Homo sapiens: one gene and its partners. The protein of the gene in region 4 interacts with the protein of the main gene of each other region in a biochemical or structural test. Each region holds a gene or a part of one and is shown on either strand. Other genes may lie near its edges.

Evidence for each region. Proteins that work in one complex are often made in the same cells at the same time.
Region 1: the proteins of SIRPA (region 4) and GNL1 form a complex in vitro, tested with the Homo sapiens proteins (one large-scale study listed by BioGRID).
Region 2: the proteins of SIRPA (region 4) and NEXN form a complex in vitro, tested with the Homo sapiens proteins (one large-scale study listed by BioGRID).
Region 3: the proteins of SIRPA (region 4) and EIF5B form a complex in vitro, tested with the Homo sapiens proteins (one large-scale study listed by BioGRID).

Annotation. Positions count from the first base shown.
Region 1 is NC_000006.12:30,546,490-30,549,989, reverse strand, and holds part of GNL1 (guanine nucleotide-binding protein-like 1), read left to right. Parts: intron 1-2,459; coding exon 2,460-2,638; intron 2,639-2,715; coding exon 2,716-2,878; intron 2,879-3,153; coding exon 3,154-3,294; intron 3,295-3,500. UniProt on the Homo sapiens protein: Possible regulatory or functional link with the histocompatibility cluster.
Region 2 is NC_000001.11:77,930,124-77,933,623, forward strand, and holds part of NEXN (nexilin), read left to right. Parts: intron 1-3,158; coding exon 3,159-3,356; intron 3,357-3,500. UniProt on the Homo sapiens protein: Involved in regulating cell migration through association with the actin cytoskeleton. Has an essential role in the maintenance of Z line and sarcomere integrity.
Region 3 is NC_000002.12:99,343,889-99,347,388, forward strand, and holds part of EIF5B (eukaryotic translation initiation factor 5B), read left to right. Parts: intron 1-3,500. UniProt on the Homo sapiens protein: Plays a role in translation initiation.
Region 4 is NC_000020.11:1,922,907-1,926,406, forward strand, and holds part of SIRPA (tyrosine-protein phosphatase non-receptor type substrate 1 isoform 1 precursor), read left to right. Parts: intron 1-1,857; coding exon 1,858-1,971; intron 1,972-3,500. UniProt on the Homo sapiens protein: Immunoglobulin-like cell surface receptor for CD47. Acts as docking protein and induces translocation of PTPN6, PTPN11 and other binding partners from the cytosol to the plasma membrane.

The sequences.
Region 1 (3,500 bases), on a different chromosome or scaffold from region 4:
TAGCCGTGTGTGGTGGTGCGTGCCTGTAGTCCCAGATACTCAGGAGGGTGAGGCAGGAGAATTGCTTGAATCCTGGAGGCAGAGGTTACGGTGAGCCAAGATCATACCACTGCACTCCAGCCTGGGTGACAGAGCAAGACTTCGTCAAAAAAAAAAAAAAAAAAGCCATGGAATTGGATGAGATGTAGGAGAGAAAGGAAATAGTTGGAGAAGAGGAGGTCAAGGACTGAGCCTTAGGACAAGCCAGCATTTAGTTGGGCAAAGGACAGTGAGAAGGAGGAAAACCAAGGGAGCGTCCCAGAAGTCAAATGAAGAAGGTGTTTGAAGAGGAAAGGAGGAATCAGCTGTGTCAACTGTTGCTGACAGGCCAAATGAGAGAACAGAGAGCTGCTCAGCAGGCTTGGCAATGTGAAGATCCGTGGTTTCAGTGGGGTGGAGAAAGCCAAACTGGAGTAGGCCCATGAGAGAAGGTGCAACAACTTCACATAACATTGTGTGAAAAGAGTCTGACCCAATAGCATCCATACTGCACAATTTCAGTTCTATCAAGTTTGAAAGCTGCAAAATTAAGCTGCATTGTTGAGAGATACACAGGTCATAAACTAAAGAGAAATGTAAGGAGTTGATTTCCTTAAAAGGATAAAGCTTGCATGTATAGAGGGAGAGGATTATGATCAAGAAGGATGAGTGGCGGCCGGTATGGTGGCTCATCCCTGTAATCCTAGCACTTTGGGAGGCTGAGGCAGGCGCATTACTTGAGGTCAGGAGTTTGAGACCAGCCTGGCCAACATGGCAAAACCCTATCTCTACTAAAAATACAAAAAGTTAGCCAGGTGTGGAGCCGCACGCCTGTGGTCTCAGCTACTCAGGAGGTTGAGGCACGAGAATCGCTTGAACCTGGGAGGATGAGGTTGTAGTGAGCCAACATCGCACCACTGCACTCCAGCCCGGGTGAGGGAGTGAGACTCTGTCTCAAAAACAAAAACAAAAAAAACAAGGACAGATGGAACATGTTGTCACACATTGGGTGGTATGGGGTTCATCAGGCTGCACATGTATGTTCTGTGCATTTTTTTGTATGTTGTAGTTTACAGTTACAAAGAAGATAGCAGGAAGAAATGGTGAAAAAAGTAGGTAAGTCTTTTAAGGAGTTTTCCTGCAAAGCGGACAGAGAACTAGGTCTGGTGGTGGTCGTCAAAGGAGAACTTTTTTCTCCCTCCTTCCCTCCCTTCCTCCTAGATACTTGCATGTGTTGTAAAGAGTGAGCACAGTGGTACATCTTTTCTTAGCCACAGTCAGCTGCCCAGGAGCAGTGCTGAATGGGCAGAGCTGGATTTTACAGGGTTGGGATTTTGCCAGGTGAGTAAGATAGAGGGGAGAAGTGGGACCAGGGAGTTCCAGGTCTGTGAACGGGCCTGGCTGAGGAGCTGGATCATGAAATCTGAGTCAAGTAAGAAGGAAATTGAGGACACGAGTTGGGTATTGCATAGTGTTACTGTGTTAAGGTCAGGGGTCAAAGACTTACTGGCATGGAGTAACCAGAGTAAGTGAGCTGGAAAGATGAGTTGTCAGGGCAGAGAGGGGTGCTTGGAATTGAGGCTTTGGAGCTGTGAAGTGACAAGATGCAGGTATTACCATGGGAGTGGGCAGCTGAGGTGGGGTAAAGGAGATGCTCTGTGGAAGGGAGATGAAGGCACTGAAGTCAGCCAGAAACACAAAAACTGGTGGTGGTGAGTGAGCAGAGTGGCAGTGAGCCCCAAGGCTTCCAGTTTTCTCCTTGGACAAGTCATCGTAATTATTATTATTATTTTTTGAGATGGAGTTTCCCTCTTATTGCCCAGGCTGGAGTGCAATGGTGCAATCTCAGCTCACTGCAACCTCCGCCTCCTGGGTTCAAGTGGTTCTCCTGCCTCAGCCTCCCAAGTAGCTGCAATTACAGGCGCCCACCACCACGCCCAGCTAATTTTTGTATTTTTAGTAGAGATGGGGTTTCACCATGTTGGCCAGGCTGGTCTTGAAGTCCTGACCTCAGGTGATCCACCCGCCTTGGCCTCCCAAAGTAATCACGCTGGGATTACAAGCGTGAGCCACTGTGCCAGGCCAAGTCATAGTAATTATGAGATGTGGATCACTGGTACTGGGTACTTACTGTACTGCAGGCACTGACCCACACAAGTTGTATTGGTTATCTCATTTAATCCTGACCACCCTGAGGTAGGGAGGTGTCCACACTGTAAAATGAAGAAACAGAGGCTCAGAAAGTTAGTTGCCCTGACATCACAAAGCTGGTAAGTGGAAGGGCCAGGATTTAACCCTGGCAGCCCAGAGCGTGATTTGTATTCTGCAATACCATTTCCTTAATTTCTGAGCCTTAGTTCCCCTTTTACCTATAGGTATAGCACCAAGTCCCATCACAGAGTAGAAACCTGTTAAACGTTAATTTTCCTTGCCTTCCTCAGGTTTCCCTAATGTGGGAAAGTCCTCGCTGATCAATGGGCTGGTGGGGCGGAAAGTCGTGAGTGTCTCCAGAACCCCGGGCCATACCCGATACTTTCAGACCTACTTTCTTACCCCCTCTGTGAAGCTCTGTGACTGCCCAGGCCTCATCTTCCCATCTCTTCTGCCTAGGCAGTTGCAGGTATGACGGGGAGGGTGGGTAAGGGAAAGAGAGAAGGTGGGACATTGAGGAAAGTACTGAGTGCTCATTTCCCTCAGGTTCTGGCAGGGATCTACCCTATCGCCCAGATCCAGGAGCCCTACACTGCTGTGGGCTACCTGGCCTCCCGAATTCCCGTGCAGGCCCTGCTCCACCTGCGCCACCCAGAGGCTGAGGACCCCTCAGCGGAACACCCCTGGTGTGCCTGGGACATCTGTGAAGGTGAGTTCCATGTGCCTGGCTTCGCCCCACCTGGTTTCAGCTGCTCTTCCTTACCTGCCTCGCCTTTTACCCTTCCCTGTCTCCTTTCCTCTCCTCAGAGATTCTGCCATTGATGAAGCTGCTGTCCACTCACCCCTAGATTTTTGTTGCATAGCCAGTAAGATCTCTGGCCTGGAATGTTTTGGGGAAAACTGGAAGGACTGTGTTATGGGAGTGGGAGTATAACTGGTACCTGGTTAATGCTTTCCCTTTCCATTATTCTTTTCTTCCTCCAGCCTGGGCAGAGAAACGTGGTTACAAGACAGCCAAGGCGGCTCGGAATGATGTGTACAGAGCAGCCAACAGTCTCTTGCGGCTGGCAGTGGACGGCCGCCTCAGCCTGTGTTTTCATCCCCCAGGCTACAGTGAACAGAAAGGTCAGAGCCCAGATATTCTTCCCCAGCCCCCTGCTATAGCGTAGGTAAAAGGGTGTGGGCTTTGTGGCCAGAGAGAGGGTCAAACCTGGATTCTGTACCTGTTGGCTAGCTCTGTTACTTAACATCTGTGATATTTTCCTGATCTGCAAACTGAGGGTAATAATTGACCCTTAGCATAGTGATTGTAAAGATTGAAGTTGATGTGC
Region 2 (3,500 bases), on a different chromosome or scaffold from region 4:
CACTGCATCTCCTTCTTGAAACACTGTAATTAGCTTTGGTGATATCGTAACCTGGTTTTCTTCCTCTGTATGGGTGAGCATCACACACATATGTCCAAGTGTTTATTTGGCTTTATTGCCCACACAGATACTCAAATCAGAAACGTGGAAGCCTGAAACACTTCCATCTTCTTATTCATGCCTGATGTCCAACCAGTCACTAAGTCTCGTTTATTCTACCTCCTAAATCACTATGAAATCTGTCAGTTTTCCCCCCATTTTCACCGCCACTACTATAATCCAAGTTACTGTTACAACTTGCCTGGGGCCAACTCCTCATTAACTTGCTTTCTTACCTGTAACCTATTCTTTCCTGTAAGGCCAGGAGTGATCTTTAAAAAGAAAGAAATTTTGATTGTGTTTTGTTACTGTTTTGCTTAATATTTCCCCACTTTTCTTAAGCAAAAATCCAAAAACTTCTAAAACAAATTTCTTTATAGTCTTGCTCTTGTATATTGCTCTCGTTTCATTTCTTGATTCTTCCTGAATCTGCTCTTTGTTCCAAATATGCTGAATTTGTTTGTATTTCTTCAAAGTGAGACTCAGCCTTCACACTGTCTGAAAGATGTCCCTCACTCCTTTCCCTATGCTCTGCTAACTCCAATTCATAACTTTCCATTTCCTCTGGAAAGCCTTTCCTGATAATAAACACCTTCCATGAATTCTTACAGCATTTAGTACTCTTCTATCATAGCGCTAATCCTGTATTGTTACCACTTATGGCTGTCTTTTCCACTCCATGAGGCCAAGACTGTTCATCAAACATGTGGCACAATGCTTAGCGTAGCAGACCTCCAATAAATGTTGATGGAACAAGTGATATTGAAATCTTACGTGCAGTAGGTAATCCCTGATTCATAAATGGTTTCTACATAGAAGTCCTACAGACGTTGTGAATGCACTTAATTTTTGGAGAATAAGCAGGTTTAGAAGCGGTAGAAGAAGCCGGGCGCGGTGGCTCACGCCTGTAATCCCAGCACTTTGGGAGGCCGAGGCGGGCGGATCACGAGGTCAGGAGATCGAGACCATCCTGGCTAACATGTTGAAACCCCGTCTCTACTAAAAATACAAAAAAAAAAAAAAAAAAAAAAAAAAAAAAAAATTAGCCGGGCGTGTTGGCGGGCACCTGTAGTCCCAGCTACTCAGAGGCTGAGGCAGGAGAATCGCATGAACCTGGGAGGCGGAGCTTGCAGTGAGCCAAGATCTCGCCACTGCACTCCAGCCTGGGGGACAGAGTGAGACTCCGTCTCAAAAAAAAAAAAAAAAAAAAAAAAAAAAAGAAGCGGTAGAAGAGAAGTAACTGTGAAGATTACTAGACCTAGTCCTTGGGGCAGATTTGTAGGCCAATACTGCCTTTTTACCATGATTCACTAGCGGAAAAAATGCAGGCGAGAAAACTGCATTAAAACAAAACCAAGTTTCCTAAAGACATTTCTAAAGAGAAGAGAGAAAACCTTCCTCTTACATTTATATTGTTTTCTTATCCACAAATAAGTATTGTAATTTATCCAGGAATAAGTATTGTAATTTCATACCATAGCTTAGTTCATGCATATGTAAAATTTAAAAATTTCAGGCAATCTTTGAATTGTAAACCACTTAAACATTGTTTCTGAGTTGAAATAGTTCTGTGGTAAAGCCTGGATTACCTTGATAAAACTTGGAGCAAATGAATAATACCCCTTGCCTCTCTCATTCCCCTGTGTGTATTTCAACCACAGAGTCACAGTTCAGGCCAGAGGGTTATGTTATACCGCGCCCGGCCTATAATCTTTTGTTTTTTTTGAGATGGAGTCTCGCTGTCACCCAGGCTGGAGTACAATGGTGCAATCTCGGCTCACTGCAACTTCCACCTCCTGGGTTCACGTGATTCTCCTGCCTCAGCCTCCCCAGTAGCTGGGATTACAGGCGCCCACCACCACACCTGGCTAATTTTTGTATTTTTAGTAGAGACGGGGTTTCACCATGTTAGTCAGGCTGGTCTCGAACTCCTGACCTCATGATCCACCTGCCTTGGCCTCCCAAAGTGCTGGGATTACAGGCATGAGCCACTGTGCCCGGCCTATAATCTTATTAGAAATATTTTGAAGTTTGAATCCCAGCTTTGCCACATAGTATTTGTGTTGACTTTAGACAATTACTTTTCAGTGCCTCAGTTTCTTTCTCTGTAAAATGAGGATATTAGTAACTACTTCATAGGGTCATAGGATTAAATAAATTAATACATTTTACATGTATTAATACACTTTACGTGCTTATAACTGCACTTGGCAGCTCCAAGTATTAACTATTATTATTTCTTTAAAATTAGCCAGACAGCAAATAAACAATAAACTCATAGCACTAAGAATGATTTTTGCCTGATTATGAAGAGATCATGATGGGTTATCTAATTCATTCAGACAAAATCATGATTAACTTAAATGCTTTAATTACCAACCTGGGGAGTCGTTTCAATCCAATTAAAAAATGTTCTCAAATTAGGAAATCTTAATGTCTAATTTAAAGTACTCATGGTATGAATAAATTATTTCTTTGTCTTCACTGTAATGGAGAATAGATGGTTACCATTTCCTTCATAACCACAAAATACCTCGGTCTTACATTTTCTAATAATTCTTCCCTTTTATTTATTTATTTTTGAACACTGTGTTGAGACTTCCTTGTTTACTGTTAAGTCCCCTTGTTTTTTGTTCAATGTGAAACCTATTTAAGAAATCTGGCCGGGTGCGTGGCTCACGCCTGTAATCCCAGCACTTTGGGAGGCCAAGGCAGACGGATCACCTGTCGGGAGTTCGAGACCAGCCTGACCAACATGGAGAAACCCCGTCTCTACTAAAAATACAAAATTAGCCGGGCGTGGTGGCGCATGCCTGTAATCCCAGCTACTTGGGAGGCTGAGGCAGGAGAATCGCTTGAATCTGGGAGGCAGAGGTTGTAGTGAGCTGAGATCACATCATTGCACTCCAGCCTGGGCAATAAGAGTGAAACTCCATCTCAAAAAACAAAAACAAAAACTAAAAACAAACAAAAAAAAGAAATCCCAGTTTCTTCAAGAAATAGTCCCTTTTTAGTATGTGTAATTCTGGCCAGAGTGATAAAATAATTATTTTAAATAGGTAGTAGATGATGACTCCCCAGAGATGTATAAGACAATCTCTCAAGAATTTCTTACACCGGGAAAACTGGAAATTAATTTTGAAGAATTATTAAAACAAAAAATGGAAGAAGAAAAACGACGAACAGAGGAGGAACGGAAGCATAAGCTAGAAATGGAGAAACAAGAATTTGAACAACTGAGACAGGAAATGGGAGAGGTAAGATTTTAAGAAATATCTATATTCCCCATATTTATTAAGCTAAATATTTTACTTATATCACCTTATAATAACTTTGTATTATTATTCACCTTTAGGATAGTTGACATAGTATTATGAGGTGCTTACATGGTACAGGCGTCT
Region 3 (3,500 bases), on a different chromosome or scaffold from region 4:
GTTGTATGTGGTATGATGTAGGGGTTCATCTGCATTCTTTTTTTTTTTGAGACGGAGTCTCGCTCTGTCGCCTAGGCTGGAGTGCAGTGGCGCAATCTCAGCTCACTGCAAGCTCCGCCTCCCGGGTTCATGCCATTCTCCTGCCTCAGCCTCCCGAGTAGCTGGGACCACAGGCACCTGCTACCACGCCTGGCTAGTTTTTTTGTATTTTTAGTAGAGACGGGGTTTCACCATGTTAGCCAGGATGGGTCTCGATCTCCTGACCTCGTTATCCGCCCGCCTCGGCCTCCTGAAGTGCTGGGATTATAGGCGTGAGCCACCGCACCCGGCCTGCATTCTTTTATATGTGGATATCTAGTTGTCCTAATACCATTTGTTGAAGAGAAGATTTCTTTCCCTATTGAAAGGTTCTGGCACCCTTGTCAGATCATTAGATGCTAGATATATGGATTTATTTCCGGACTTTAAGTTTTATTTCTTTGGTCTGTATGTCTGTGTCAGTGTTGCCACCACAGTTTGTTGTTGTTGTTGTTGTTGTTGTTGTTGTTTCTGGGTTTTTTTTTTTTGAGACGAAGTCTCACTCTGTCACCCAGGCTGGAGTACAGTGGTGTGATCTCTGCTCACTGCAACCTCCGTCTCCTGGGTTCAAGGGATTCTTCTGCCTCAGCCTCCGGAGTAGCTGGGATTTTAGGTGTGCGCCACCAGGCCCGGCTAATATTTGTGTTTCTAGTAGAGACAGGGTCTCACCATGTTGGCCAGGCTGGTCTCAAACTCTTGACTTCAAATGATCCACCTGCTTCAGCTTCCCAAAGTACTGGGATTATAGATGTGAGCCACTGCATCCAGCCGGCACCACAGTTTTGATTACTGTGGTGTGAATTTCCTTAGATGAAAAATTTCAAACACATACAAAAGTAGAATAGTCTAATGAACAAACATGTGTCCATCACCCAGGTTCAAATTCATTCATAAATCTCATTTCATATGTATTCTGCCCCCTCCTTTCTTTTCTCCATTATCTTGATACAACCTCAGACATTTGTAAATATTTCAAGAAATTATATAATGTATTATAAGAAACATTTATATCTTAAATATAAATTTTTAGAAGTGGTACATTTCATTCATTTGGAAAATTCACATACAATGGAATCGTTGTCTGTGTTGTCAGATAAATGAAATGTCATTGTACTTTTTCAGAGGCATTTAAACTAGCGTTTCAATTTATTGCTTCAGAAAATTCCATTTGGAAGTTTTATGATCAAAAGTACAGTAATTATTATAGTGTTAGACGTGTTTTTTATTAAACTGCTGTGTTGAAACTGGTTAGCCTTGCCTGTTGTATGAGAGTCGTGATTGCCACTCCAGAATAGGACTTTTTCCTTATTTATTAGTGCCTATTTGAAATGTCTAACATGCGACCGGGCATGGTGGTGGCTCGTGCCTGTAATTGCAGAACTTTGGGAGGCCATGGCGGGTGGATCAGTTGAGCGTAGGAGTTGGAGACCAGCCTGGCCAACATAGCAAAACCCCGTCTCTACTAAAAATACAAAAAATTAGCCAGGTGTGGTGGTGCATGCCTATAATCCCAGCTACTTGGGAGGCTGAGGCATAAGAATTGCTTGAACCCGGGAGGTGGAGGTTGCAGTGAGCCAGGATTGCACCACTGCGCTCCAGCCTGGGCAATGGAGTGAGACTGTCTCAAAAAAAAAAAAAAAAAAAAGGAATGTCTAACATGCCTTTCTGGTTGCCACTTGTAGAACATAGGTAGGTGGGCGGGGTGCGGTGGCTCATGTCTGTAATCCCAGCACTTTGGGAGGCTGAAGCAGAAGGATTGCTTGAGGCCAGGAGTTTAAGACCAGCCCGTGCAACGTGGGGAGACCCCATCTCTACCCCCTAAAAAAAATAGCTGAGTGTGGTGGTGTGTGCGTGTGGTCTCAGCTACTCAGGAGGCTGAGGTGGGAGGATTGCTGGAGCCTTGGGAGGTCAAGGCTGCAGTGAGCCATGTTTGTGCCACTGCACTTCAGCCTGGGTGACAGAGCTAGACCCTGTCTCAAAAAAAAAAAAAAAATGTGGTGAATTGGGAATACAAAAGGGAGTTTGCTGTTCTCAAAGGGAGTTACGTTTTAACATAGCAAATAGGCATATGCACAGATAATACAGAGTGAAGTGCTGAAGGGAGAAAATGGAGTATGAGAGTACCACCCTCGAGATTTCACATTTGCCTCTTAAAGTTATTGTTTATGCATCTTTAAAATCCTTTTCTAATTAAGTTTGCCATCAAGAGAGCGTGCAGATTGGAAGGAATGGGAGTATGCTGTGTGTTTCTGTGTCTCTAGAGTACCAAGGGTGACCATGAGGAATATTTGAGATCTTCAGTTGCTCCTGTATTGCCAATAATTTTGTACACAGGTGCAGCCAGACCATTCTAATGATGGTGTTCACCAAATTGGTTATTCAGAAATCTGGTCTTGAGAGTGGTTGTCTACATAAAACTTTTTGTTAAAATTTATTAGTAATTATTAGTTTGTTAATATTAATGATTTATTAATATTAGAGTGCCAGGCACTATACAAGTTAGGTGGGGAAAATCCTTTAACAGTGATTAAGGATCAGAGTTAACTTCTATGGAGTACAGAGACTGAGTTTGCTTTGAGCACTTACCATGTGATTAGTTATTTTAGAACATAAGTTGTATCTCTTTTTTTTTTTTTTTTTTTTTTTTTTTGAGAAGGTGTCTCAAGCAATCTCAGCTCACTGCAAGCTCCACCTCCCGGGTTGATGCCATTCTCCTGCCTCAGCCTCTCGAGTAGCTGGCACTACAGGCACCCGCCACCACGCCCAGATAATTTTTTGTATTTTTAGTAGAGACGGGGTTTCATCGCGTTAGCCAGGATGGTCTCAATCTCCTGACCTTGTGATCCACCCGCCTCGGCCTCCCAAAGTGCTGGGATTACAGGTGTGAGCCACTGCGCCTGGCCCATATAAGTTGTATCTTAAGGTGTTTATTGAGAATGTGGATCTGAATTTTTATCAATATTATATATATCTGCAGACATAATCCTAAATATAAACTTGTATCTCTGTAATTATGAAACCCAAAATATTCTTTTTTTATTATTATTTTATTTTATTGAGACAGAATCCCACCCTGTCGCCCAGGCTGGAGTGCAGTGGTCTGATCATAGCTCAGTGCAGCCTTGATCTCCTGGGCTTAAGTGACCCTCCCACCTCAGCCTCCTGAGTATCTGGGACTACAGACGCATGCCACCACACCCAGCTAATTTTTTTGATTTTTAGTAGAGATGAGGTCTTGGTTTATTGCCCAGGCTGGTTTTGAACTCCTGAACTCAAGTGATGTTCCTGCCTTGGCCTCCCAAAGTGTTGGGATTACAGGCATGAGCCACTGTGCCAGGCCCCCAAATAGTCTTATATCAAATAGTAACAAATATAAAATTTTGTAAAGTTCCAATCTGCAGTATTGATTTGAAAGATGATGC
Region 4 (3,500 bases):
GTTCATGGTGTCCTGCCTCTTGCCTTCTTCACCTGACAGTTGTCATGCTCCCCATTCCTCACTGGCCCAGCCCCTCTTCCCTACTCTTTCTAGCCCCTGCCTCATCTCCCTGGCTGCCATTGGGAGCCTGCCCCACTGGAAGCCAGGGTGGAGTCATTCAGGGTGTTTGCAGCTTGTCTCACATACAGTCAGTGCTTCAGTGAACATCCTTGTGCATGTTCCATCCCACATGTGACTATTTCTGTGTGATTGCCCAAGGAACACTTTAGGCCAAAATGCATACTCATGTAAGGAGGAGATAATGCTGTCGCTCCCCTGAGAGAGTGTGAGGGTGTCAAGGTATCATTTTCTCAGCCCTTGCAACGTGGTGTTGGTGTACATCTCTTTTGTTTTCAAATGGTGGCACCTGATTGGCATTTCAGTGCAGCCATGGAATATTTCATCACCTGTTATCAATGTGGCTGATGCCCTGTACATAGTAGAACCCTTGAATGGATTAGAATGGAAGCCATTTCTGTCCTTCATGCACCCTTCAGGGAAGCTCTCAAAGACAGCCTTGGGGCTGTGTCAAAGTGGCCCTTTGGTTTCACCAATGCCAGGTTTTCTTAGGATGTGTAGGGCATCGGCCAATGCTGGGTTTTCATAGTACGTGTGGAGCATTGGCCAATGCCGGGTTTTCCTAGGACGTGTAGGGCATCGGCCAATGCCAGGTTTTCATGGGATGTGTAGGGCATTGGGCAATGCTAGGTTTTCATGGGATGTGTAGGGCATTGGGCAATGCCAGGTTTTCATGGGATGTGTAGGGCATTGGGAGACAGGATGTGTGGCTTTCCACGCCAGCTATGTTGCATACTTGGCTGTGTGACCTTGGACAAGTCAGTGCCTCTCTCTGGGCCTCCACTTGCTTCTGGCTGTGTTGAAGGGGATGAGCTTCATGACCCCTCAGCTCTGAGTCTCAGCTGGTAGGGGCCATGATTATCTTGCTCAGCATTGTAGCTTCAGGGCCTGACCACAGTAAGCACTCAGTAAATGCTTTTTGAGTGAAAGAGGATAAAAGAGTCAGTTGGTTGGCTGGTTGGTTGGTTGGTTGGTTGGTTGGTTGGTTGGTTGGTTGGTTACATAATCCTTAGTTAGCCAATGAGGTAGAGATGACTGTTGGCCCCAGTAACAGAAGAAGCAGCCAGGGTTTGGAGGGAGGCTTAACTGACTTGTCCAGGGTCACACAGCTACTTAGTAGCATAGATTTGAAAGCACTTTTCTGTGGCTTAGAGCCCTGCTTCTGATGAACCACTGTGTTCTAGTCTATGACCCCCTTACCTGTGCTGTGGGCAGTCAAGCCTCCATTGTATTTTCAAGAGTCCTGGTTCAGAGCCCCTATGCTAACTCCTGAGCCCAGTGTGCATGGCCCAGGTGCTGGGCACAGACCGGTCGTCAGCCCCTGAGCTGTGCAGAGCCTGCTGGCCGCACTGCCCTTCTTCCAGCTGCTGATTCAGTTTCCAGTGGATCTGGGGTGCCCTCATGACCGCTCTGTGGTTCACTCCAGATGAGAAGGAACGTTTCTGTTCCTCAGGAGTGAGATTTCTGCCTGTATCCTGCAGCAGGGGTTCCTCCGTAGCTGTCAGCTACAAATATATTCCCCCCTGGCACCTCAGCATGGTTTTTGTGCTGTTCATGGATGAGTCTCGTGGGCAAGTGTGTACAGACCCATGAGTGTGCCCATGTGGCTCGAGACATCTAAGAAGGTCCAGCCAGATGTTCTCAGTTAATGATGCCTGCTTAGTGGTGAAAAGCAGTGGTGGGTTTGGTTTTCTGTTTTTAATCTGCATACGTGAAGCCTCTATTCCATGTGGTCCCTAGAGAACACTGGATCTAATGAACGGAACATCTATATTGTGGTGGGTGTGGTGTGCACCTTGCTGGTGGCCCTACTGATGGCGGCCCTCTACCTCGTCCGAATCAGACAGAAGAAAGGTGGGTGCATTCCCCTCTTCCTCCCTAAGGGTTTGTCCCTGGACTGTCCTCGGAGGGAGACGCCATTAGGTGCTTTGGGTTAAGGACATCAGCTTCTGCCAGTAGCAAGAAGTCCAGAGGTAGTGGTGCTAGGGCTGGGGCAGTGGCCTCACCATGTTAGAGTCTGGGTGGGTCACTCTGTGGCTTCCCCCTCATGGTTACAAGATGTTCATCACTGCCCCAGGCCCCGTGTCCTCAAGGGGCCACTACTGAGCAAGGGAGCTGCCAGCCTGGGAAGAGAGGAGGCAGGGACTCTTCTTACCTGTCTCAGGGAGGACATCGTCTTTCCCAGGAGCCTCCCGGCAGACTTCTGCTTTCCTGGTACAAGTCTAGGTTACATGACCAGTCCCTGGACAGGAGGCCAGAGGGAATGGAGATAATAGCGCCACCATTTGATTGGGAGGACTTAACAAGTGATTGCATGGGAAATGTTAGGGAAGTAACCTGGCACACAAGTGCTCAATGTATGTCAGCCCTGATTATTACCCGTATTGTATGTGAGCCCAGAAATATGAGCCACCTCCCTAGAAAGCCCCCTCACAGGGCAAGGTGCATAGCCTTTGACTGCACAGCAGGAGGGCACAGGGTCAAACCCAGGACACCGCTTCCCCTTGTTTGTGTGCACGTGTTACGTGTGTGTCTGTGTGTGTGTGCTGGTTGTTGGGAGGGTTGGTTGTTGCTGTGGCAGGGCCTCTGACTTTGAAGTCAGACAAACCAGGGTTCCAGACCCTGGTTATATACTGTAAACAATCAATTTGGCCTCTACAAGCCTCAGTTTCCCCATCTGTAAAATGGGTTTAGCAACGCCTGTCTTGGAGAAGTTACAAGATCCAAATAAGCCCATGTGAAATAACGGGTCTGACACATTCTAGGATCGCCATAAATACATGTTCTCTTTCCCACTCTTGGAGAAGACAATTTTAAGCTGGTATTTCTGCAACCTTTTTTTATTACAAGAGATAGAAATACATTTCACATCTCAACCCAACACATACACACACCCTTTGTATATAAAATTAAAACTGATATTTTCTTTTTTGTCATATTCTTTTTTCTGTTTAAAATGCTGGTTGTGACCCACCGCCTCCAAAGGGACAAGTGCTGTCCCGAGCTGCCTTTCTGTGGCCTGGCACAGCTGAGCTTGGTTGGGCACATTGTACACTAATCACGCATCCCTTCAGTAGCTCCTTCACCTCTGCCTCCCAAGTTTCCCTCCCTCCTGGGCTGGCTCTGAGATACTGGCCAAGCCTGATGCTTCTGTCTGGGAGGGTTGGAGTCAGGCCCTGCTTCTCCAGAATCTGCAAGACGTCCCACCAAGACGTCTACCCAATGGGTTCCCTAAAGTTCCTGGAGAGCCCCACACAGGGAGGACTCCTCCTTGGATGGGGAAGCAGGTCCCTTCCCCACCAAGGGTGACAGCCCATCCCATGGGATGAAGCATTCATAGCAGCCGATAGTGAAATCCTGGCCATCCTTTCTGAGTCTCAGGC